2 linked regions of the Homo sapiens genome follow. The protein of the gene in region 1 purifies or fractionates together with the protein of each later gene. This does not show direct contact. Each region holds a gene or a part of one and is shown in the gene's direction. Other genes may lie near its edges. The genes, in order: BTD and MYO1D.

Evidence for each region.
Region 2: the proteins of BTD (region 1) and MYO1D purify together in Homo sapiens (affinity purification with mass spectrometry; 2 studies listed by BioGRID and IntAct, with this or other methods). This does not show direct contact.

Annotation. Positions count from the first base shown.
Region 1 is NC_000003.12:15,602,895-15,615,506, forward strand, and holds part of BTD (biotinidase isoform 1 precursor), read left to right. Parts: intron 1-3,546; exon of another isoform or gene 3,547-5,036; intron 5,037-12,612. UniProt on the Homo sapiens protein: Catalytic release of biotin from biocytin, the product of biotin-dependent carboxylases degradation.
Region 2 is NC_000017.11:32,760,434-32,773,045, reverse strand, and holds part of MYO1D (unconventional myosin-Id), read left to right. Parts: intron 1-203; coding exon 204-257; intron 258-1,825; coding exon 1,826-1,921; intron 1,922-5,293; coding exon 5,294-5,410; intron 5,411-7,964; coding exon 7,965-8,168; intron 8,169-12,418; coding exon 12,419-12,564; intron 12,565-12,612. UniProt on the Homo sapiens protein: Unconventional myosin that functions as actin-based motor protein with ATPase activity. Plays a role in endosomal protein trafficking, and especially in the transfer of cargo proteins from early to recycling endosomes.

The DNA of each region.
Region 1 (12,612 bases):
GAAAAAGAGGTTTAATGGTCTCACAGTTCCAAATGGCTACGGAGGCCTCACAATCATGGCAGAAGGTGAAGGAGGAGCAAAGGCATGTCTTACATGGTGGCAGGCAAGAGAGCGTGTGCAGGGGAACTGCCCTTTATAAAACCATCAGATCTCATGAGACTTACTATCATTAGAACAGCATGGGAAAAATCCCCTCCCCATGATTCAGTTACTTCCCACTGGGTCCCTCTCACCACATGTGGGGATTATGGGAGCTATAATTCAAGATGAGATTTGGATGAGGACACAGCCAAACTGTTCTGCCCCTGGCCCCTCCCAAATATCATATCCTCACATTTCAAAACCAATCATGCCTTCCCAACAGTCCCCCAAAGTCTTAACTCATTTCAGCATTAACTCGAAAGTCCACAGTCCAGAGTTTCATCTGAGACAAGGCAAGTCCCTTCCGCCTATGAGCCTGTAAAATCAAAAGCAAGCTAGTGGCTGGGCGCAGTGGCTCACACCTGTAATCCCAGCACTTTGGGAGGCCGAGGCGGGCGGATCATGAGGTCAAGAGATGGAGACCATCCTGGTCAACACGGTGAAACCCTATCTCTACTAAAAATACAAAAAATTAGGCGGGCATGGTGGCAGGCGCCTGTAATCCCAGCTACTCAGGAGGCTGAGGCAGGAGAATGGTGTGAACCCGGGAGGCAGAGCTTGCAGTGAGCTGAGATTGGGCCACTGCACTCCAGCCTGGGGGACAGATCGAGACTCCGTCTCAAAAAAAATAATAAAATTAAATTTAAAAATAAATAAATAAAAGCAAGATAGTTACTTCCTAGATACAATGGGTGCACGGGAGTGAGGTAAATATACCCGTTCCAAATGGGAGAAATTGGTCAAGACAAAGGGGCTAAAGCCCCCATGCAAGTTCAAAATCTGGCAGGGCAGTCAAATATTAAAGCTCCAAAATGATCTTTGGATCATTTTGACTTCGTATCTCACAGCCAGATCATGCTGATGCAAGAGGTGGGCTCCCACAGCCTTGGGCAGCTCTGCCCTTGTGGTTTTACAGGCTACAACCCCCTCTCCCAGCTGCTTTCACAGGCTAATATTGAGTGTGTGCAGCTTTTCTAGGCACATGGTGCAAGTGGTCAGTAGATCTACCATTCTGGGGTCTGGAGGACGGTGGCCCTCTTCTCACAGTTCCACCAGCAGTGCCCCAGGAGGGACTCTGTATGGGGGCTCCCACCCCACATTTCCCTTCCACACTGCCCTAGCAGAGGTTCTCTATGAGGGCTCTACCCCTGCAACAAGCTTCTGCCTGGACATCCAGGCATTTCCATACATCCTCTGAAATCTAGGCAGAGGTTCCCAAACCTCAATTTTTGACTTCTGTGCACCTGCAGGCTCAACACCATGTGGAAGCTGCCAAGGCTTCAGGCTTGCACTGTCTGAAGCCAGGCCTGAGCTGTACATTGGCCCTTTTTAGCCATGGCTGGCATGGCTGGGATGCAGGACACCAAGTCCCTAGGCTGCAAACAGCAGGGGGACCCTGGACCTGACCCATGAAACCATTTTTCCTCCTAGGTTTCTGGGCCTGTGATGGGAGGGCCTGTTGTGAAGGTCTCTGACATGCCCTGGAGACATTTTCCCCATTGTCTTGGTGATTAATAGTTAGCTTCTTATTACCTATGCAAATTTCTGCTGCCAGCTTGAATTTCTCCCTAGAAAATGGGTTTTTATTTTCTACTGCATCGTCAGTCTGCAGATTTTTCAAATTTGTATGCTCTGCTTCCTCTGGAACACTTTGCCATTTAGAAATTTCTTCTGCCAGATACCCTAAATCATCTCTCTCAAGTTCAAAGTTCCACAGATCTCTAGGACAGGGGCAAAATGCCACTAGTCTCTTTGCATAGCAAGAGTGACCTTTACTCCAACTCTGAATAAGTTCCTCATCTCCATCAGAAACCACTTCAGCCTGAATTTTATTGTCCATATCACTATCAGCATTTTGGTCAAAGCCATTCAATAAGTCTCTAGGAGGTTCCAAACTTTCCCACATTTTCCTGTCTTCTGAGCCCTCCAAGTCTCTAGGAAGTTCCAGACTTTCCCACATTTTCCTATCTTCTTCTGAGCCCTCCAAACTGTTCCAACTTCTGCCAGTTACCCAGTTCCAAAGTTATTTCCACAGTTTCGGCTGTCTTTACAGTAGTGCCCCACTCTCTGCATTACCAATTTTCTGTGTTAGTCCCTTTTCATACTGCTATGAAGAAATACTCAAAACTGGGTAATTTATAAAGAAAAAGAGGTTTAATAGATTCACAGTTCCACATGGCTGGAGAGACGTCACAATCATGGTGGAAGATGAAGGAGGAGCAAAGGCACGTCTTACATGGCGACAGGCAAGAGAGTGTGTGCAGGGAAACTCCCATTTATAAAACCATCACAGCTTGAGACTTATTTGCTATCACAAGAACAGCATGGGAAAAACCCTCCCCAATGATTCAGTTACCTCCCACCAGGTACCGCTCATGATATGTAGGGATTATGGGAGCTATAATTCAAGATGAGATTTGAGTGGGGACATAACCAAACCATATCAGGGACCCATCTCAGAGGGTGACTTCTTTCAAGTCTCAGAGTGTATCTAAAAAGAAAATGCAGATTTTGTATTATACTCTAGAATGTATCCATATTTTAATTTTAAAATGACATTTATTGAGATATAATAAAGATACAATTCAATGTCCAGATTTTAAATGTTAGATGAGTTTTGACAGTTATATATATATATATCTATGAAATCACCACCCAAAATAAAAATGACATTTTAAACTGCTTACCTGTCAAGTAAAATTGACATTCCAGAAAGATGTGAAACGGGCTGGGCACAATGGCTCATGCCTGTAATCCCAGCACTTTGGGAGGCCGAGGTGGGCAGATCATCTGAGGTCAGGAGTTCGAGGCCAGCCTGGCCAATGTGGTGAAACCCCATCTCTGCTAAAATACAAAAATTATCCAGGTGTGGTGGCACATGCCTGTAATCCCAGCTATTCGGGAGACTGAGGTGGGAGAATCGTGTGAGCCAGGGAGGTAGATGTTGCAGTAAACCAAGATTGCACCACTGTACTCTAGCCTGGGTGACAGAGCGAGACCCTGTCTCAAAAAAAAAAAAAAAAAAAAAAAAGATGTGAAATCATCTTTGCACTTTGAGTAGTCCTTGACACAATGCCTCCTGTCCTTGTTGAAGAAGTACAGACTTCCCCTTCCATCATGTATTATTTATATCAGTACCTTTTGTGACAGTCTCTGCCCCTGTTGCATTAGAGTCACTTGGAAAGCTTTTTCCAAATAGTTACTTGGGCCCTACCCCAGATCTCCTGAATCAGCATCTTAGGACAAGTCAGGCACCTGTATTTTTTAAAAGCTGCTACCTGATTTTGCTTTGCAGCCCAGAGTTGAGAACCCTAGCTCTGTTTTCATGCCAGAAGCATGAGTTACTAATTAAACATATGATTGCCTGTCACCAAAGTAATACTGTTGATTAATTTGGATTGACAGGTTCAAGACTGATTTGACATTGACAGAACAAGCTGTATCGATGGTAGTCAGTTCACTGGGCCTACTTCTGTGTCAAAAGAAACAGTGACAGAACCACTCAGTATGAAGTGCAATGAAAACTGAACTCTGAATTGGAACAAATAACTGGAATTCAGTTAACTGGTTTTGCAAAAGGATAAATACTCAACTGGTTGTTTTCTGCCATTTAACAAAGAGAAAAATCATTGGGATTGTTTAAACTTGCTTTCACCTTTGCACCTTTCAGTTCAGGATGCAGTGTTCAATTGTTAACTTGGGCTTGATGATTCAGCAGAAAGAAATGATTTGAGTTCTGGCTCACTGGATTAACAGGGCCAAGGAGCAAGTCCTTTGCAATCCAATTGTAATTACAGCCAGCTTGTCCAACCCTTGGCCCAGGATGGCTTTGAATGCGGCCCAACACAAATTCATAAACTTTCTTAAAACATTATGAGATTTATGCACCGACCCTTTTTTTTGTTGTTGTTTTTGGTTTTTTTTTTTTTTTTTAGCTCATCAGCTATCATTTGTGTTAGTGTATTTTATGTATGGCCCAAGACAATTCTTCTTTTTCCAGTGTGGCCCAGGGAAGCCAAAAGATTGGATACCCCTGACAGGATTCCAGGATTCTTTTGTAATTTCTCAGAGGCCCTCTGTGCATACTCCGTAAGGACTATCCACATTCTTTATTACTTTCATTGGCAATAGGTATAAAATTTTATTTGTTGGATATTTTACTGAAATGTTACTTGTTTTTGCTTATTTACTGATTGGTGGGAGGAAGTCAAAGGATGAATAAATCTAACCTTTTTAAAAGAAAAGGCTAAAATACTCATAACATGCTCTCCAAAGAGCAGAGCTAGTCATCAAAGAATCTGCATACCAATTACTCTATTTGTAGGTTCTGGATTTGAGATTATGAAAAAGAGCAAATTGGTGGTTTTCTTCTCTCTGGGCCAGGGAGATATCCAGGCAACCAGGTAATTTAGTAAGAATTGCAAATATAGTGCCTGGAGACAATTTATTCTCTAAAGACTGCAGCTTCTACAGGCAGTAACTCTTAAAGCCCCCAAATTGGGATAGTGCATTTTAATTTCCGTATACTAACAAGGACACTAAAAATCCTTGTGATTATTTTAAAGCATAACACTAGCTGAACTTGTGATTAAGTATTCTCACAAATGTATTATCAAAATGTGAAATGTTTACTTATCAAATGAGGAAATGAATCAAGGTCATTTGTGATACATTATAGAAGCTAAAAATGAAATTGCCTGACATAAGATAAAACTGATACTGAATATCTTAAAAATAAAAAGGCGGAAACAACAAAAAAAGGAGTCTATGTAGAACACTATTTTTTATAGCAATGCAAAAACTGTACAGCCGGAAATGTGTTGTAGGAAATATGTCAACATAGGAAGTAAAATAATGTAATGAAAAGGTTCTTTGAATAAAGTGGGTTAAATTGATTTTCTTTGCTTCTCATTAAATCTGTGGACTTCAGAGTACCAAAGCTCAGCAACAGGCTTGAAACAAACCCAGTGAAAAGCAACTTTATTATTGAGCTGAGGATTGATATCAGTAATAACTCATTAATAAAAAAGCTTGATAATAAAAACTCCCAGTGCCTGATGCCAGCTGACAGACACTGGGAGTTTTCCCAGGTACCCTGTGACCTAGAGAAAGCTTGGATTCCTGCCTTTGGCTTGGGCTGGCAAGCCCTGTGCCTTTACTCTACATTTTAATGCCAGGGAGACCTGGAACTGGAGAAGGGAGTGCTGTGGGAAGAAAACAGAAGGAATGTTGTTCCCTTGTTTTAGCTTTGTGTTCATCCATTATGGGTTTTGGGTTTTTTTGTTTTTTGTGTTTTTTTAAGAACATTTGAGATAGTTTGACAGCAGCAGTCATTACATCACTGACGAGGACGTTTACTTGTGTAAAATGCACCAGGAAATAGTGACAACTGTATGTTGTGCTATGAGGATGTAAGAGATTTATCTCAAATGGCTTAGAAATCAAAATATAGGTCAGTGCGGTGGCTCACACCTGTAATCCCAACACTTTGGGAGGCCAAGGCAGGCGGATCACGAGGTCAGTAGATTGACACCATCCTGGCCAACATGGTGAAACCCCGTCTCTACTAAAAATACAAAAATTAGCTGGGCATGGTGATGTGCGCCTGTAATCCCAGCTACCGGGGAGGCTGAGGCAGGAGAACCACTTGAACCCAGGAGTTGGAGGTTGCAGTGAGCCGAGATTGCGCCCCTGCACTCCAGCCTGGCGACAGAGCGAGACTCCGTCTCAAAAAAAAAAAAAAAAAGAAATCATAGTATTTCTCCGTATGATGGAATTCCATACTCGGGGGAGTGTCCCACAGGGTAGGCAAGCAGCTATCACCCATGTAATATGGTACTAGTGTTGAAATATTTTCTGTTTTCACTTGCTTCTTCTGCCATTAGCATTCATTACAGCCCTTTCCTTTAACTTTTTAATTTGTACTTTATTGCTTTGTTTTGATAATAATCTATTCTCCATGTCAGCAAAACAAAGATTTATCTCTAGGGAAGAATCTCTGAGTGATTCCCAGGGTTTGGGGGTTGAACTGGGGACATCTTCATGATGAACTTAAGCCCTTAAACTTCTTTTTACATCATAACGTTTGAGTTCTTCTTTGGAGCTTAGCTGTGATTTATTCTTTTCACTTCAAAAAAAATACATTTAACATTTATGACATCTTTCAGACACATGAATAGGATCAGAGATTAATATACACCCATGTACCCAGCCCCTGGCTTAAGAAATACATCACAAATATAATGAAACCCCCGTGTGTCCTTTCCCCATTACACCTCCTTTCCTGTCCTACAGAGGTAACCACTATCTTGAATTTGGTGTTTGTAGTTCCCACATTATCCATTCTTTAGATGATCGATATTTGGTCATTTTTAGTTTTTTTGGAAACAGTGTGCTCTGAAATTCTTGCATGTTTCCTTCTTGTGCACATGTGTGAGAGTTTCTACATATATATCAAGGTGGAGGTCATCATCATTTGATCTCCAAAGTATTGTACCAATTTATACTCCCAACATTTGTGTATGAGAGCTACCCTTTCTCCATAGTCTCAACTGTGGAGCTTTAAAAATTTTTAAATGTGAAATGGCTTCTCAGTTCCATTTCTCTGACTACAAATGAGGTTAAGTTATATTTGTATATATATATTGGCCATGCGTGTTTCTTTTTCTGTGAATTACGTGTTTACATCTGTTGCACATTTCCTTATTGGATTATCTTTTGCTTTTTGATTTGTAGATGTCCTTTATGTATTCTGAATGCTAATTATTTGTCTTTTAACTTTGTTAATAGTGATTTTAGAGGTATAAAGGGTTTTTTTATAGTCACATTTGACAACTGGTCTTCCTTATTTTTTTTTTAATTTTTTTATTTTTTTGGTAACTTGCTAAAGAAAACTTTTTGTAACCTGAGGTTATGAAGATTTTTTTCTATATCAAAAAGTGTAAAGTTTTATTTTTCATATTTAAGTCACTACCTGGAATTGATTTTTGTTTGTTGAGAAGTAAGAATCCATATAATATGTCAATTAGATTTGCTGTGTAATTAACCACCCCAAAACTTAGTGGCTTAAAAGAACCACCATTTATTTAACATATATTCCTATGAGGCTGGTCTCAACTGGGCTCACCCATGTATCTGTTAGTCAGTTGCCAGTGAACTGAGTCACTCAGCCCCTGGAGGTTAGCTGGTTGTCCACTGGGATAGCGGGCATATTGCCAGTGAGCCACATAGCTCTACCACTCAGCAGGCTAGCTGGACTTCTTCATTGGATGGCAGCAGGTTGCAAAAGGGAATGAGCCTCATTGTGCAAGCCTCTATGTGCGGTGTTTGCTAACATCTCATTAGCCAAAGCAAGTTATGTGGCTGGGCTCAGACTCTAAGTTAAAGGCATTCGAGTTACATGATAATGGAACATGGATACAGAGAGGGGAGAAATTGCTGGCCTTTTTTATAGTCAATTTACCATAACATCCAGTTGTCCAAGCACCATTCATAATATAGTTCATTCTCATCCCAGTGATACATAATTTCCCCTCTGTGGAATGTCAAGCTCGCATATTTATGGGAGTATTTCTGTACTCTCTGTTCTTTTCCTATCCTAACACCAATCCCACACTATCTTAATTTCTGTGTTTTTAAAATAAGTCTTGATGTTGGTAGGACAAGTAGTCCCTGGACTTCATTCTTTTGAAGCCATCTTGTTTATTATATTAATTTTAAGCAACTAGAGGGGATGGAAGAGGAACCTTTAGATTAAAAGAGATTTAAAAGATAGGGTATTTTTTAATGGACAAGACTAAACTACAGTGTCTAGGGATGCACATTGGGTGATAAAGCTATTTTAAAAAACAAAGAAGTGATGAGTATAAAAGTCAGGGTCATGGTTACTTGATCCCTCATGGGTAATGTTGTCAGATTTAGAAAAAAAAAAAAAAACAGGACTCCAAAACTCCCAGTTGAATTTGAACTTTAGATGAACAATGCATAATTTTTTTTAGCGTAAGTATGTTCCAACATATTTATCTGAAAGTTAAATTTAACTGGGCCACCTGTATTTTACCTGGAAAAATCCTGATTTTATTCAAGGTGATAATGCAGTTTACATTGCCCAGCCTTCCTTGTAGCTAGGAGTGGTCACGCGTCCACACATGGGCCAAAGCAATTTAAATAGGAGTCACTGGGCAGGGCTTTTAGGAAAGCTGATGAAACTGGCAAGTACCCTCTGTACTCTTCCTCTGTACAACATGATAATTGGAGTTGTAGAAGTCATTTTGGAACCACAAGATGACTCTGAAAATGGAAGCTACATGCCAAGAAGTTAGGCCCAGAAAGAGAGGGATCCTGGGTCCTACATGACTCTTGCCTTTGTCAGGTTTTATTATCAGATTTTTATCACTTCATAAGAAAAAAATGCCTTCTTTTACTATATTCTCACACACATTGAGTAGCATTAGGATTATTTTTTCCTTTATAGTTAGAAAGAATTCTTCTAGAAACTATTTGGGCCTGTTTTGAGGGTGGAGAATGGGAGGGAATGATTGTTTGATAACTATTTCTTCTATGATTGTTGGCATGGTTTAGTTTTTTCTTTTATCCGAAGTTTTGGTAAAAATATATTTTTCAGTCCCAGCTACTCTGGAGGCTGAGGCACAAGGATTGCTTGAATCCAGGAGGCAGAGGTTGCAATGAGCTGAGATTGCACCACTGCACTCCAACCTGGGTGATGGCGTGAGACAGTCTCAAAAAAAAAAAAGAAAAAACAAATAATGTATTTTTTTTCTAGGAAACTACTCGTCTAAATTTTCTAGCTTATCAATATAGGATTGAATGAGGTGATTATTCTTTTTTAAAAAAAATTCTTCTGCATTTATAGATTTCTCTTTGTTTTGTATATTTGTTTCTCTTTTTTTTCTTAATTAGGCTAGCCGATCATTTGTCTTTACCTTTTTTTTTCTCTAAACAACAACTCCTTGGACATACTTATTCATTCTGTCATTTTTCTGTTTTCTAATTTAATTTCCACTCTTATTTTTATTTCCTTCCTTTTGCTTTCTTGAGCATGCCATTACTCTTTTCCTCACTGTTACCACCTTTTGTTAGTTTTACAATTTCTACATTGCCAGAGTTAATAACATTTGCACTGTGTTCTATAAATATAATCCTCATGTTTATTTTACATTCAAGGCTCTTGCCAGTTTTTCCATTCACCTCTTAATTGGCCGAAGATTACCCTCTATGCATTTTTTCAAAGAAGGCTGATGAGACTGATGAGAATAATAGTCCCTGAGTTCTTATATTTTCATACCTATTATCTGGTTTTTTTCTTTACTTCAACCATAGGTTGGCATAATATATAATTTCTGGCTTATATTTTATTTTCTGGAAGGATTCTATAGGCTTTTACTGGCATTGATGTTATTGTAGTAAAGTCTGAGGACAGCCTGATTATTTTGCCCCTAATAAATACCCTTGATCTTTTTATTTAGCTTCCCAAATGATTCTTACTTTATCTTTGAAGATCAAGAATTTTGCTAGGCTATCTGCCGATGTTGATGTTCTGTTCCTTTCTTTCTTGAGTTTTGCTATCTCTTTTCAAGCTATAAATTGAAATATGCTTTTATTTCTGGTGAGTTTTCTTCAATTACATCTTTAATTTTTTTTTTTTTTGCTTCATTATATGTTGTCTATTGTTGTATAAAAATTTACCCTACGACCTATTCAGCAGCTTAAAACAAGACCCATTTATTATCTCAAAGTCTCTATGTGTCAGGAGTCTGAGCATAGTTTTACTGGATCCTCTGGTCAGCATCTCACAAGGCTACAGTGAAGTTGTCAGCTGACCTCATGGTCTCATCTGAGGCTGAGTTTTCTTCCAAATTCAACTGATCGTTGAAAGAATGAATTTCCTTGCAGTTGTAGTATTCATGGTGGCTTGCTTCTTCAAGGTCAGCCGGGGAGAGAGTGTGTCTGAAATCTTGGAGCACCCCAGTTCTTTTTTTAAAGACCTGATTAATTCAGACCCACCAGGGTAATCTCTTTTGATTAACTAGATTAACTGGCTTGGGATTTTAACTACATATGTGAAAGCCCTTCACCTTTGTCATATTCTATTGGCTAGTAACAGAGTACAATTTCCACCTGCACTCAAGAAAAGAGGATTATACAAGGAGTCACCTTAGGGTGTGTCCACCACACATTATTTTTTTCTTTTATGCATTTTCCAATTATGCATATGATGGATCTCGTTCACTGTTCTCCCTGTCTATCATTTTCTGTGGACTCCTTTTCAATTCTGTATTTCCATTCATGTTGCTTATTTATTTACAGCATCATCTGATTTCTTTTGCTGCTTCTATCTTTGCCATAATTTCTTGATGTTTTAATTTTTTCTTCTGCTTCTTTCCTGAGCCCTGCCAGATAATATTTCATCTGTCTCCCAGCTTTCTATTCCCCACTCCCTTCTCCCTTCTCTCTTCTTCCCTCTTCCCCCTCCTTACCTTCTCCTCTTCTCCTCCTTTCCTCCCCTTCTCCCCTTTTTCCCTTTCATCTTTTAATTCTCTTGGTCTATTTTGTGCTTTTATTTAATATAAGCAGTTTTTTTTCACTCGTGGCAGAATGTTTTGTCACAGTTTTTATTTGTGTTGTGGCAATTTTCTGGGGTATAACCTTTGTTTTCGTATAGTATCTTTCAAAAGATCTTGAGCTTTTTATTTACTCATTTTTGAGTGAGTTTTTCCTCTACTGTAGGAGGTTTATGTGTGAACAAGGCCATTCTGGTTCACAGTTATTTTTTCTTAGCACATTTAAGATTTTGTTTTCTTACTTCTATTGTTACTCTTGAAAAGTCTGCTGTTTTCAAATCACCATATCTTTGAAGGCAATCTCTCTTCCCTCTGGTTGCGTCTAAGATTTTTTTCTTCTTCAAATATTTCGTGTTCTGGTTTCTTTATGTTGTGTATAGATTTCTTTTTGGTTGTCTTGAATCTATGGATTTCTGTATTTTATTATTAAAATTCTCACCTATTATACCTTCAAACATGTGTAATGTGTCATGTGTCATTTTATGTATTTTCTCCCTCTTTCTTTCTTTCTTTTTTTTTTTTTTTTAAGTCAAGGTCTTGCTCTGTCGCCCAAGCTGGAGTACAGTGGCACAGCCGTAGCCCACTGCAGCCTTAAACTCCTGGGCTCAAGCAATCCTACCACCTCAGCCTCTTGAGATGCTGGGACCGCAGGTGTACACCACCATGCCCAGCTAATACTTTTTTACTTTTTGTAGAGATTATATTGCCCAGGCTGGTCTTGAATTCCTGGCCTCAAGTGATCCTCTCATCTTGACCTCCAAAGTGTTGGGATTACAGGCATGAGCCATTGCACCCAGCCTCTATTTTCTCCTTCTGAAATTCCAATTAGAAATATCATGGAACATCATATATGTCTTCCATGTCTCATCTTCTTTTTTTCCCTTTTGTCATCTCTGTGGTACATTCTAAACAAATTTTTTAATGATTCTAACGGCCATGCCACAAAATGTCTCCATTTGGTTTTATTTGACAATATCTTTTTCTTTTTTTTTTTTTTTTTGACACAGAGTCTCTCTCTATTACCCAGGCTAGAGTGTAGTGGTGTGATCTTAGCTCACTGCCACCTCCGCCTCTGAGCTCAAGCAATCGCCCTACCTTAGCCACCCAAGTAGCTGGGACTACAGGCATGCACCACCACACACAGCTAATTTTTGTATTTTTTGTAGAGATGGGGTTTTGCCATGTTGCCCATGCTGGCCTCCAACTCCTGGGCTCAAGTTATCTTCCTGCCTTGGCCTTCCAAAGTGCTGGGATTACAGGCATGAGCCACCACTCCCAGCCAACAATATCTTATTCTTTTACCTGTTTTAGAGTCCTCTGAGTACTTCTTTAATCAACTTCAGTGTACTTATTTGAAAATTTTCACTAGTAATCCTTCCATCTGAAGTTGTTGGGGGCCTGATTTTGCTGTATTCTTTAACTTTCTTGCATAATATTTGCTTCCTTGTGTGTTTTGTAATTTTGAATTTTGAGCTCTTGTTTACCTTGTTCTTCAACCCAGGACACTCAGTCTTCAAGAAGAGAGTATGTGGATAGGCTTTTCCAGGCATCTTAGGACTGATAACATCTCAAAATCACTTTGTGCTCATTTCTTGGCATAGAGTTACCTGGGTCATGTATGTTGTGAGTTTTTGAATCATGAACCCACATAAGGAAAACCTTTGATTATGTTGGTTATGACTTTCAAGGAGTACTATTTTCCCCTGCTCAGAGCCCAAGATGAGATGTACAAGTTTCTACGTCAGATAGTTACTTTGGCAGGCAGGCAGATATTTGTTTTTGTCCATCCTTTCAATAAAGGAATCATTCCTTAAGGTTCCTAGCTATATGCACAGATCTCACTCCAACCTCCACATCTTGTCTTTCTGTCCTTCATGGTCTTTAAAATCTA
Region 2 (12,612 bases), on another chromosome or scaffold:
CCAAGTCACGGCACCAAATGTCATTAGTTAAGGCAAGAATCTGCCATTTTCACTTCTTATGTGATTCTTCAGTTGCTTCAGGCCATCTGGATGTATACGTGCAGGCTTGGGCTCAGAGGCCTGACAGTTCCCTAAGAAAGTGGCTCCTGTTTTATTTTAGGGGCACATTTTCGGGTTAACCATTTTAATGTGTTTTTTCTTAGTCTCGAGTGATTGTGCAACAGCCAGGAGAAAGAAGCTTTCATTCTTTCTATCAGGTTAGTAATCCATTATACAGATAATTGATCATTTGCCCAGTTGTGCAGGAAATGAGTATTTGTGTCTTGGGCTTTCCCCTGTCCTATGCATCACTCATCTCCATTGGCCCCGTAACATGTCACGCATGCACGCACGCACGCACGCACCACATGCCCTGCCCTACCTGCTTAAGAGATTGGATGAACATGACTGTTCCACCCAGCTGGCAGGAGCTTAGCCAACCAGATGACTGCCTTGGGTGAGCATCCCCCATATTTTCTTGCAGTACAGATAACACTTTAATGACTGTGAAAGCTTTTGAAATGGTACATTCTAAATGTTAAATTAATTTTTGTTTTATTTTGAATTGAAGCTGTTGTTTCCATATTTGGGAGTTCTAGAGATCAGAATACAAATTCAGTTTGTTTCACTCATACACACTAAAAGCAATATGATTACTTTTAAAAAAACAATCTGGATTTATAACTTCTAGGGAGGATTGCCTTTTTAATCCATCAAGTTTAGAAAAAAATTTGAGTATTTATTTTCAAGAGTGCTTTTAGATTTTAAAGCAAAATCTTTTAAATAGCCTTCCTGTTGGCAAGTCTTTACACTTAGAAAACAAGTATGATATATTATTGTAAGTTTTTAAAGCCCAAATTAATGTAAATCAAGGTTAACAGAAAGTAACTGAACGGTGACAATACAATTGGATGCAATTCAGTCGAATTCAGTTTCTTCTAGGTAACTGCTTTAATAGACACTACTCATTTGTATATATAAGTTCTGGTATATTAAGTTTAAAAATCAATTTTTAAAATCTGATAATTAGACTTTTTAAGTAAACAAAAGCATACAGTTTAATTTAGAGAATTTAAACCTAATACCTTCCAAAAACATGCTCTATATAAAAGCACTGTCAATATTGTGTTTATGGTTCTGTTGGCAATTTGCCATGTTTTAAATAAGCTATTTTTCTACCAAATATAAAAGAGTTCTGTTTATTTCAATAACCTGTAACTTTTTCCCAGTGTTCTTCCCACTTGGGTGAAAGTATTAAAATTTATCTTTATCCAATACTACAATCATGGTTCCCCAGCTGTCCTCTTTTCCTGAGAGGTACAGATTGATGAGGAAAAGCTGTTTGTTTCCAGTGTGATTCAGCATATGACTGTCTGCTGATGTTTCTTACTTCCGTAGCAATATTGACTTTTTCTAAATTCTGAGACAGAACTATATCCTGTCTATAGTGAGGCTGCTAAGCAAGCAACCACCACAGAGCATAGGATCCTGTTTTACAAATGACGGCATTCAAAGCAAGAAACTTTTATGCCAGTTATATTGTAAATGAGATGAGACATTTTCAGAGTAATTTTCTTTATGACTGCATAACATTCTCTGTAACTGATGACATTGAAGCCATTTACCTTGAATGTTTAAAAAAACAAACAAGCAAAACTTCAAAGCTAGAAACAGGAAGACATAAGTGAATTAAGCCCAGAAAATGAATAAAAGCTAGATTACCACTAAGTTCATGTTTGGTTCAATGTATGTCTGGCCAATTTATTTCTAATTAAATATTTTTCAGCTACTCCAAGGAGGTTCAGAACAAATGCTACGCTCTCTACATCTCCAGAAATCCCTTTCATCCTACAACTATATTCATGTGGGAGCTCAATTAAAGGTGAGAATTTCCTCTTTGAGATTGCTCCAATAGAAAATCAGTCAAAGGATTAGAAGAGACATTCAATAATTATCTGGTCAAGCCTGCTATCTTTAGGCAAATAAACATCTCTTTTATCCTGTTCTATTTTTTAAATTCTCAAGGACAGAGATTCAGCACATTTTTGAATCAACAACTTTGCTTAAAATCAATTATGATATTTTATCACCATCTGACAGGAAAGAAGTTTTTTCCTACATTCAATGTTTTATTTTAATTTTTAATCCTATCCCTATTCCGTTTATTTTCACACTATAAAAATATTGATAGGACTAGGAAGCCTACCTCCTAAGAAGATTCCATATGATTTGGCCAAAGGCAAGTTAGTAAGACAAAATTAAAATGCACTTTGATTCTCCACTCACTGTTTGTTCAAATGTTGATTTTGATGTACCCTAGAAATAATTTTGTGACCTTTGAGGCATTCCTATTCAGCTTTCAAGTTTTTCCATTTTTTCTCTTTTCTTGCATGCAAGCACTTGCATACACTTACATGCAGGCGTATTTTTGCTCTTTTATTTCTAGTTCATTTTATTTCTAGTTCATCTAGTAATTTTACAACTAATTATAATAATAGTTTGTTGATAATAGTTACACTATTATCCTATTTCGTAGGAGGGAAGGTATATAAATGCATATAATAAGATATGGTAGGATATAGATCACAGTATTAATTATTTATTCTAGATGGGTGAGATTATGGATATTTGTGTTCTGTTTTTCCTTATTTAAAAAAATTCTACATCAAAAACTTACTGCTTTCATATTTGGGGGAGAAATAAAAGAAACTGTAAAGGAAAAAGATCTAAGATATGGGAGCTATTTCTTTAAAAAATTCTATTAATCAAAATAAGCTAATTATACCTGCATTATTGGTTTAGCTGTATTTTTATTGCTGTGCATAGAAATTAATGATATTTTGGTTTTTGCAATTAATTTTCCATTATTTGACATTTAGGTTACAACAACTTTACTTTTATGGTCATCTGAGAGCGAGCAGGATGTTTGGCTGAAAATGAATTAAAAACAAAAAACAGTAGAGGGCAACACTCCACCTCTCTGAGAACTAGCCAGAGGCACTTAAAGAATTGTGAAATCAACACCTGGAAAGCCAGTGACTGGGAATGTTTGTTTTCAAATTGTCTTATCGACTAAGTTACTTTTGACCAAGTCGTGTAGAGTCCCCACAGAAAGCAAGTATTAAATTAATAGCCTTTTTTCTAGGTTAAATTTAGCTTAGATTCCCTTTTTATCAAAAATTTCCATGTCTGCTTTCCCCACCTTTTTTTTTTTGCTTCCTAAGAAAACAAAGAACTAATAAATGATCATAGTCAAAACCTAAACTATGAACCAAAAGGAAACAAAAATACACTAAATCTTACCATACAGAAATGATTATTGATAATGGTTTGCATCTATATTTATAAATGGAATCATACAATAAATCCTAATTAAATAAACCTGTTTTTATTATAATCTTTCCATGCAAACAAATATAAATTAATATAATAATTTTTATAACTATTAAGTATTGCACTGTGTGTATCTTAACCAGTTCTAAAATGCAGGAGTCATATACAGTTAAGATATTTTGGGTTGCAAGTAGGAGAAGACCCAATTAAAAGTCTCCAAAAACAATAAGAAACTTAATTATCTAGCATAACAAGAAACTCTGAGATAGGACAATTCCAGAATTAGTTAGTTCATTGCCTTAACAATGTTGTCAGGGACCCAGGTGTTTTTTTGGTTGTTTCCCCAACTTACAACTCTGCCACACTCATGGACAGCTCTGTCCTCTTAGGCTGGTTTTCCTTTTAGTCCCAAAATGTCATCAGAATTTCCAGGAGTCACCTGCAAAGGAGATGTTCATGGCATATGTCCTTTATAAGCTAGGGAAACCTCCCCAAGAACCCTCCTCCACTCATCCCCCATAAACACTTTCCCTCATGTTGTATTGATCAGAATGGCATCCCATGCCTGTGGCTAACCAGTCATTTAGTAAGGGAAATAAGATCACTCTGATGAGTTTAGACCAGTGAAGATTTACCTCTTGAGGCTAGGTAGATGCCAGTCACAAAGGACATGCACACTTAGAGAGGAGTAAACAAATCAGGGTTCGATTGGCAAGAAAGAAATGAGGGTAGAGGATGGCTGTTAGGTAAGCAGCCAACAGTTCCCCACAGTAGGACATTTAGATTTTATCCAGTTACTTTCCAACTTCAACATGGTTGCAGTTTATAATAATAGTAATATCTGATACTGCTGAGTGGTTTTTTTTTGTATGCTGGTGCTAGAGAGGTGCTTTATATAAATTTTCATTCAATTCTGACAACCACCCTGTAAGATATATGTTATTATGCCCATTTTATTTGTGAGGAAGTTGAGGTTCAATGAGGTTAAGTATCTTGTCCAAGGTAAAAACAAAAACCTAGGAGGAGGAGGGGCTGGCCTGGTTGTCTCCTGGACACTAGAGGAACTTGTACTCACCAGGCAGAGAGGTCCCCTTCCAGGGCCCTTCCTCAACAAGTGAGCATCAGGCCAGGTCTCTGTATCCAAACAAGAGGAGAAACTTACTGAGGAAAGAATTGGTCAAGCCTCTGCGGCTGCTGCTGTGGTAAAACTAATATAAGCAGTTACTATTGCTTTATTGCGAATTTCTGTTTACGCACTTGTATTTCCAATGTGATGGCCACAGCTCTAAAAGGGCAGGCGATTCATCTTTGAGCTGCCTGTACCAGTTAGTAGAGCTGACTTGTGAAATGCGTATCAAGTGAGTGAAAGAATGAAGTTATAGTCCCAGACTATTTAATAGCTTACTAAATGACTGAGGCTGGCTGTTTTGCTTTTGAGGGCCCGCCTTGCCTCACCTGGAAAATAAACCGCCTGATTATACGAGAGTGAAGTGTTGTTGCCAGCCTAAATAAGACAATTGTGGAACAAAGAGCCACAAACAACAGTAGCCAAGCATGTATCTTGGAGGCTCCCACATTCAGCACTTGCATTTGTGATCTCACATCCATGCTGTTGCCTTCACTGATCATGGAGTGGGGGATCAGCTTGTCTGAGCCAGCTCAGGACTTGCTCCCTCACTGAAGGTTCCAGAAAACGGCACAGTGCTTATTTTAGGTGATGGCTTTCACGCACAAGTGGGCTTTGTACGTGCTGAATAATGTTGCAACTCGTGAAATCATTTTTATTTTCTCTGGAGACTCACCATCCCCTCAAGTGATTTACTATGAAGGCAAAACCTTGGTATAACTTAGTTTTATAATTGTTGAATTTTAATGCTCATAGGAAATATCTGTAACTTCAGTTTTTCATTTTCATCCCCAGTCTTCTATCAATGATGCTGCCGAATTCAGAGTTGTTGCTGATGCCATGAAAGTCATTGGCTTCAAACCTGAGGAGATCCAAACAGTGTATAAGATTTTGGCTGCTATTCTGCACTTGGTGAGTAGGGACACCTCTCAGAATGTATTGTCTTCTGCTGAGAACAGGATGCTTTCTCAGAAGATTTTGTTTTTTCCCTGTAGATTTAAAAAGTATTCAGAGAAAATTTTGTACGTATTTTGAAGAAATTACTATGTCTGTGGTTCTTGCCATCATTTTATAATATTATGAGGGATTTTCCAAGCTACTATAGGGTTGGAGACTACTACTTCAGTTGATTGTCTTACTGGTATTGTCAAACTTTGAACTGGTTAATTTTAAGGATAAAGGAATTCAGCAGTGATGTGACTACTAGTGGTATAAATTTCTAGTGGCATTTGAAACATAGAATCATAGGTTATCGGAACTGGATTTTTAATCATCTCATTTTACAGATTGGGAAATAGCCCTGATGGGTGGCATGACTACCTCAAAGGCACAGCCAGCTCATCCCAGAGCCAACACCATAGACCACTTTTGGGCCACTTGTTTCCCACTATACCACACCAAACTTAGAAGTGAAGAACTGTGTGTTAGATTTCTTTCATTAACATTTATATAATTAGAGATACTTAAAATACACTGAACATATAATCTTACAATAAGAATGACAACATGGATTCAAATCTGGAATAAAAATTACTTTTCACTTAATATAGCAAGATTTAACTCTAAATGAATCAGAAATGTGCAGGATCTTTATGAAAAATATTATATAGCAATATAAACAATAAATGTTCCTGACTAGGAAGACTTTAGTATTATAAATTGTCTCATCTGTTTGAATCAGTTTTTAAATACAGTGCAGCAGTCCTTTTCAGAATCCAAACAAGAATTTTATTTTTTGTTGTTTTGTTTTCTTTTTGAGATGGAATCTCGCTCTGTCACCCAGGCTGGAGTGCAGTGGTGCAATCTAGGCTCACTGCAAGCTCCACCTCCCGAGTTCATACCATTCTCCTGCCTCAGCCTCCTGAGTAGCTGGGACTACAGGCGCCTGCCACCACGCCTGGCTAATTTTTTTTATTTTTAGTAGAGACGGGGTTTCACCATAGCCAGGACAGTCTCGATCTCCTGACCTCGTGATCTGCCCATCTCAGCCTCCCAAAGTTCTGGGATTACAGGCGTGAGCCACTGTGCCTGGCCTTTATTTTGTTTTTAACTTGACCTGTTGATTCTAGAATTTACCTGGAAAAAGATCAAATAAAGTATATTAAAGAAGTGTCGTATAGGGTAGGGTAAGGGAGGAGAGGGAACATGACTAGTTCTACCAAACTTAAAATGATAGTAAAAGCTAGAGTACTTTATAACTTTGCACAAGTTCAGCACCAGATCAACAGATTAATCAACTGATTGGTTAATGTGCTGGACATTTGGTAGATGGTTATAAGTATGTATTGCTTATTGAATGAGTGGAATATAAATAGACTCAAACACTTGAGGAGATTTAACATATTAAAAAGGTGACATTTCAGCTGGGCGGGGTTGCTCACACCTGTAATCCCAGCACTTTGGAAAGTTTGAGGTGGACAGATTGCTTGAACCCAGGAGTTCCAAGACCAGCCTGGGCAACATGGCAAAACCCCATCTATACAAAAAATACAAAAATTAGCCAGGCATGGTGGCACGCATCTGTAGTCCCAGCTATTTAGAGGGGCTGGGGGTGGAAGGATCGCTTAAGCCTGGGACGTTGAGGCTGCAGTGAGCCATGGTGCACCACTGCATTCCAGCCTGGGTGACAGACCCTGTCTCAAAAAAAAGGTGACATTTCAAATCAGAAAAAGCTAGACTGTTCAATAAGTCCCGTTAGAGCAACTAATCATGTGAAAAATAAAGTTAGATTCTTACTTGATACCATGTACCAAAATCAATTGTGGATGGATTAAAAAGTTTAAGGAAAAAGGCCAGGCGCGGTGGCTCACGCCTGTAATCCCAGCACTTTGGGAGGCCGAGGTGGGTGGATCATGAGGTCAGGAGGTCGAGACCATCCTAGCTAACATGGTGAAACCCTGTCTCTACTAAAAATACAAAAAATTAGCTGGGCGTGGTGTCAGGCACCTGTAGTCCCAGCTCTTCAGGAGGCTGAGGCAGGAGAATGGCGTGAACCCAGGAGGCAGAGCTTGCAGTGAGCCAAGATCGCACCACTTGCACTCCAGCCTGGGCGACAGAGCGAGACTCTGTCTCAAAAATAAATAAATAAATAAAATAAAAAGTTTAAGGAAAACAAAAACTATAAAAGCATTAGAGGAAAGCATCAAATGCTCATAAACCCTTTGGAGTAGGAATGGTCTAAGTATGACACCAAAGAAAGAGAGACCCTAAGGCAAAAGATTCATAGATTCGATTACATAAAAATGTAAAACTTTTATCTATCAAAAACATACACTGAAAGCAAAAAGATAGATGAGTGTCCGGAGAAAGGGAAAAAGTAGATGAAACACTGTTTTTATATGTTGAGATGTATAATGTATTTAGGAAAATAGGTACAAACAAGGTCACCTGAATTGTATTTTATATTGGCAAATATATCCTTGACATAATGTTTCATAATGTGTTATTTTTTTCACTTTTGATACAGGGAAATTTAAAATTTGTAGTAGATGGTGACACGCCTCTTATTGAGAATGGCAAAGTAGTATCTATCATAGCAGAATTGCTCTCTACTAAGACAGATATGGTTGAGAAAGCCCTTCTTTACCGGACTGTGGCCACAGGCCGTGACATCATTGACAAGCAGCACACAGAACAAGAGGCCAGCTACGGCAGAGACGCCTTTGCCAAGGTGAGAGTGTAACTGACCCTATGTCACCTGGTGTTGATCGCAGTTGCAAATTGAGTGAAATCCTGTGAGCATGTATTCAGACATTCTTGAAAGAGGGTTAAGGCTTTTAGAAACCATAATGATACTTTCTGGCCATACAAGCCTCGGTAAAACTCCCAGATGTAAGTAAGCATCACTGCCAAAAAAGGTTCTGAGAAGAGTGGAAGCTGACTGGGGGTGGCGCTCATGAGGGCTTCACGTGCTGCTTCTCTCACTCAATAATGCTTCGCCAGAGTCAACTGACTGAGCTCTGATCCATTTTTTTTAAGTTTTATTTATTTTTAATTGACAATAATTGTATATGTTTATGGGTACAGTGGGATATTTCAGGACATGTACACATTATGGAATGATCAGATCAGACTAATTAGCATACCTCTTACCTCACCTACTTACCATTTATTTGTGGTGAGAACATTTAAAATCCACTCTTAGCAATTTGAAACAATATTATTAGTATTATTATTAACAGTCACCACGCTTTGCAGTGGATCACCACAAATTATTCTTCCTGTCTAACTGAAACTTTACCCTTTGACTAACGTCTCACACTTTCTCCATCCACCCCGCTCCTCTAGCCTCTGGTAATCACCATTCTATTCTCTGCTTCTATGAGTTTGACTTTTTCAGATTGCATATAGGTGAGATCACACAATATTTGTCTTTTTGTGCCTGGCTTATTTCACTTAGCATAATGTCCTCCAGGGCTGTGTACTAAGCCTGCAGTGATAGTACCACAATTTATTTAACCACCTTACTCTTAAGTCACCCACTTTACTTCCCTTTTTTGCAACTGCAAACAATGCTGCACGTCTTTATACATCTATGCTTATATACTAGTGCTTTTGTTTCAGCTGGATGGATTCCCAGGAGTGAGCTTGCCAGGTCAAAGGGTATACTTATTTTATTTTTATTTTTTGAGACGGAGTCTTGCTCTGCCATCCAGGCTGGAGTGCAGTGGCACAATCTTGGCTCACTGCAACCTCCACCTCCCGGGTTCAAGTGATTCTCCTGTCTCAGCCTCCCAAGTAGCTGGGATTACAGGAGTGTGCCACCACGCCCAGCTAATTTTTGTATTTTTAGTAGAGACAAGGTTTCACCATGTTGACCAGGCTGGTCTCGGACTCCTGACCTCAAGCGATCTACCTGCCTTGGCCTCCCAAAGTGCTGGGATTACAGGCGTGAGCCACCGCACCTGCCATATATTTATTTTAAACTTTAAATTTACTGATTTTATGGCTGCATGGTAATATTTTATTGTTACTTTTATTTCATTACTAGTATATTTGAGCATCTTATCATATTTTTGTAGAGTATTTTAACATATTCTAAGAATTGCCTGGGTATATCTTTTGTGCATTTTTCTTTGGAGCTGTTATCTTTTTATTGTCAATTTCTAAGTGTTCTTAGCATATCATAAACTTTAACCCTTTGTTATCTGTGTGGCAAGCGTTGTATTTTCTCACGTCTAACTTTCGTTGTTGTTGTTTTGCTGGTTGATTAGTTTACTGTCTATTTCATTTTTTACTCTTGTAAGTCTTAGGCTTGGTTTTTAGTTTTGGGGGAATTTGAATTTTTCCTAAGTGCAATGGAGAGCAATAGGGAGGACTTTAAGGAGGGGCAATGACATCAAGTTTGCCTTTTTTTTTTTTTGAGATGGAGTCTCGCTTTGTTGCCCAAGCTGGAGTGCAGTGGCACAATCTCAGCTCACTGCAAGCTCTGCCTTCCGGGTTCATGCCATTCTCCTGCCTCAGCCTCCCAAGTAGCTGGAACTACAGGCGACCGCCACCACGCCCAGCTAATTTTTTATATTTTTAGTAGAGACAGGGTTTCACCATGTTAGCCAGGATGGTCTCCATCTCCTGACCTTGTGATCCACCCTCCTCGGCCTCCCAAAGTGCTGGGATTAGGTGTGAGCCACCGCACCCGGCCGTTTTTTTGTCTTTTTTTTTTTTTCTTTTTTTTTTGAGACGGTGTCTCTCTGTCACCCAGGCTGGAGTGCAATGGTATGATCTCAGCTCACTGCAACCTCCACCTCCCGGGTTCAAGCAATTCTCCTGCCTCAGCCTCCTGAGTAGCTAGGATTACAGGCACCCGCCACCATGCCTGGCTAATTTTTGTATTTTTAGTAGAGATGGGGTCTCATCATGTTGGCCAGGCTGGTCTCAAACTCCTGACCTCAGGTGATCTGCCCACCTCAGCTTCCCAGAGTGTTGGGATTACAGGCATGAGCCACTGCACCTGGCAAGTTTGCATTTTTAAAATGATCACTCTGGCCTTAGTATGGAGAATGTTATGGGGGCTAGAGTAAGAATGGAAGCAAAGAGGTCAATTAAGGGGATATTTTGTTAATCCAGGAAAGAGATGAGGGCAGCTTGAATCAGAAAAGTGAAAGTACAAATGGGGAGAGGAGGATGATTTGAAATGGACTGTGTTGAGAAAATAAAATCCATAGGACCTATTATGTGGAGAATGAGAGAAGCAAGAATAATACTTTAACATGGTCTGGCTCCAGCCCACCTCTCCCACCTCATTTTATACTATACCCAGCCCCCCTTTCTTCAGCCCAGCACATTAGTCTTCTCTCAGTCCTCACAGATTATCCTGATCCCTTTCTCCTTCCAGTCACAGGGCCTGTGCACATCTGTTCCCTCTGCTTGGACTGCTCTTCTCTCCTCTCTTGCTTGGCTACCTCTTACTCATCCTTCTGGTCTCAAGTATCACTTTCCCAGAGAGGCCTTCCCTAACCTTCCTGAGCACTGCATAGATTAAATTTCCCTAAGACCCCATGTACCTCTCCTTTAGTGTGGATGTTTATCTGCGAGGTGGGGGGCAAGTGAGAGAGACAGAGAGAATAATTTTTTCCTTCACTCTATTCCCTAAGTTTCTTGGACATTGAGACTATGTTTGTGTTTGCCTAGACCTGTATCTCTAACAAACTATATATAATAAGTATTCAGCAAATATTTGTTGAATAAATCAGTGAATTTCTAAGTGGTGCTATTTATTTGTGGCTAAAAGTAGGATAGGAACAGTTGTTGGAAGAGGAAAGATCAAGAGTCCTTTGAGTTTGAGATGGCTGTGAGCCATTGAAGAGTCAGTGTCAGGTAGACAGTCAAGCTCTTGAGTCAGGAGCTCAGAGACTGTTCTCTGAGTCTGGATTTGGATAATACTTTTGGGAGTCATATTATATTTGTATTATTTAATCCTGGGTGAGATGATTTAGAAGGTGCTAGAGAGTGAAGAGAAGAGGACCAGGAAGAACTCCAACTTTTACAAGTCAGGTAGAAGAGGAGACTCTACCAAAGGTCACCAAAAAGGAACATCCAGTGAACAAAGAGTAAAATTCAGAAAGGCTATTATCCGAAATCCAGAGAGAAGAGTGTTCCAAGAAGGCAGTGAAAACCTAGGTTGAGTGATGCTGAGCGACAGAGCAAGATGTCCATATGAGGTACGAGAAGTATCTATGTAGAGGTGCTGGGAGTCTTTGATGAGCCATTTCAATGGAGTAATAGGATGTAAGTGGAGACTGGAGTGGATTGAAGAGTAAAGGGGAGGTAATGGATATGGGTGAAGAGAGTGGGTAGCTGGCAGGAGACGTTAAGGAAGGTTTTCTAACGATGTGACGTTGCAGAGCACATGTGTATCGGGATGTGAATGTGTGTTAGCGTGTGGCACCTTTGTCCATGTGTGGCTTAGTGTGTGTGTTCTTGTGCATTGGATGTGTGTTCGATTCTCAGGGAATTTCAACCCTTGATCTTTGGCTCAGATCTTCATTTAGCATTAGAAATCAATATTTATATTTTTTAGAATTCATATAGCTTTAGTGGATCATAGATATTAACTCACTAGCTCTCAACTCTTTATAGTTGATGAAATTAATAATAAAGCAATGAACTGGCTTATTCAAGGGATCAGGCAAACTATTGATATAGCCGGGCAGGGAAACATGCCTGGAGAGTGTCGTTGGAATTGGTATAATGACCGGTAATAATCTTTTAAAAATACAAGCTATTTACTTTAGTTTTGCATACATCAGGTAGTTTGGGTTTTTTTAAATGGACAGTCTACATTTTCATTTGTTCTGCTGAGGCCAGTAATGGCTATGCTAAACAGTGAGAAGGTGGACAGGAATTTAAAACTGATCACAAATCCAAACAGAGGACTCATTCCCAAATTGGCAAGCATTTATGATGCTATTTTCCTTGCAGGCAATATATGAGCGCCTTTTTTGTTGGATCGTTACTCGCATCAATGATATTATTGAGGTCAAGAACTATGACACCACAATCCATGGGAAAAACACTGTTATTGGTGTCTTGGATATCTATGGCTTTGAAATCTTTGACAACAACAGGTAAACTGGAAAAGATACTTAAAACCTTGTTGCCTGTTTTCTATTTGT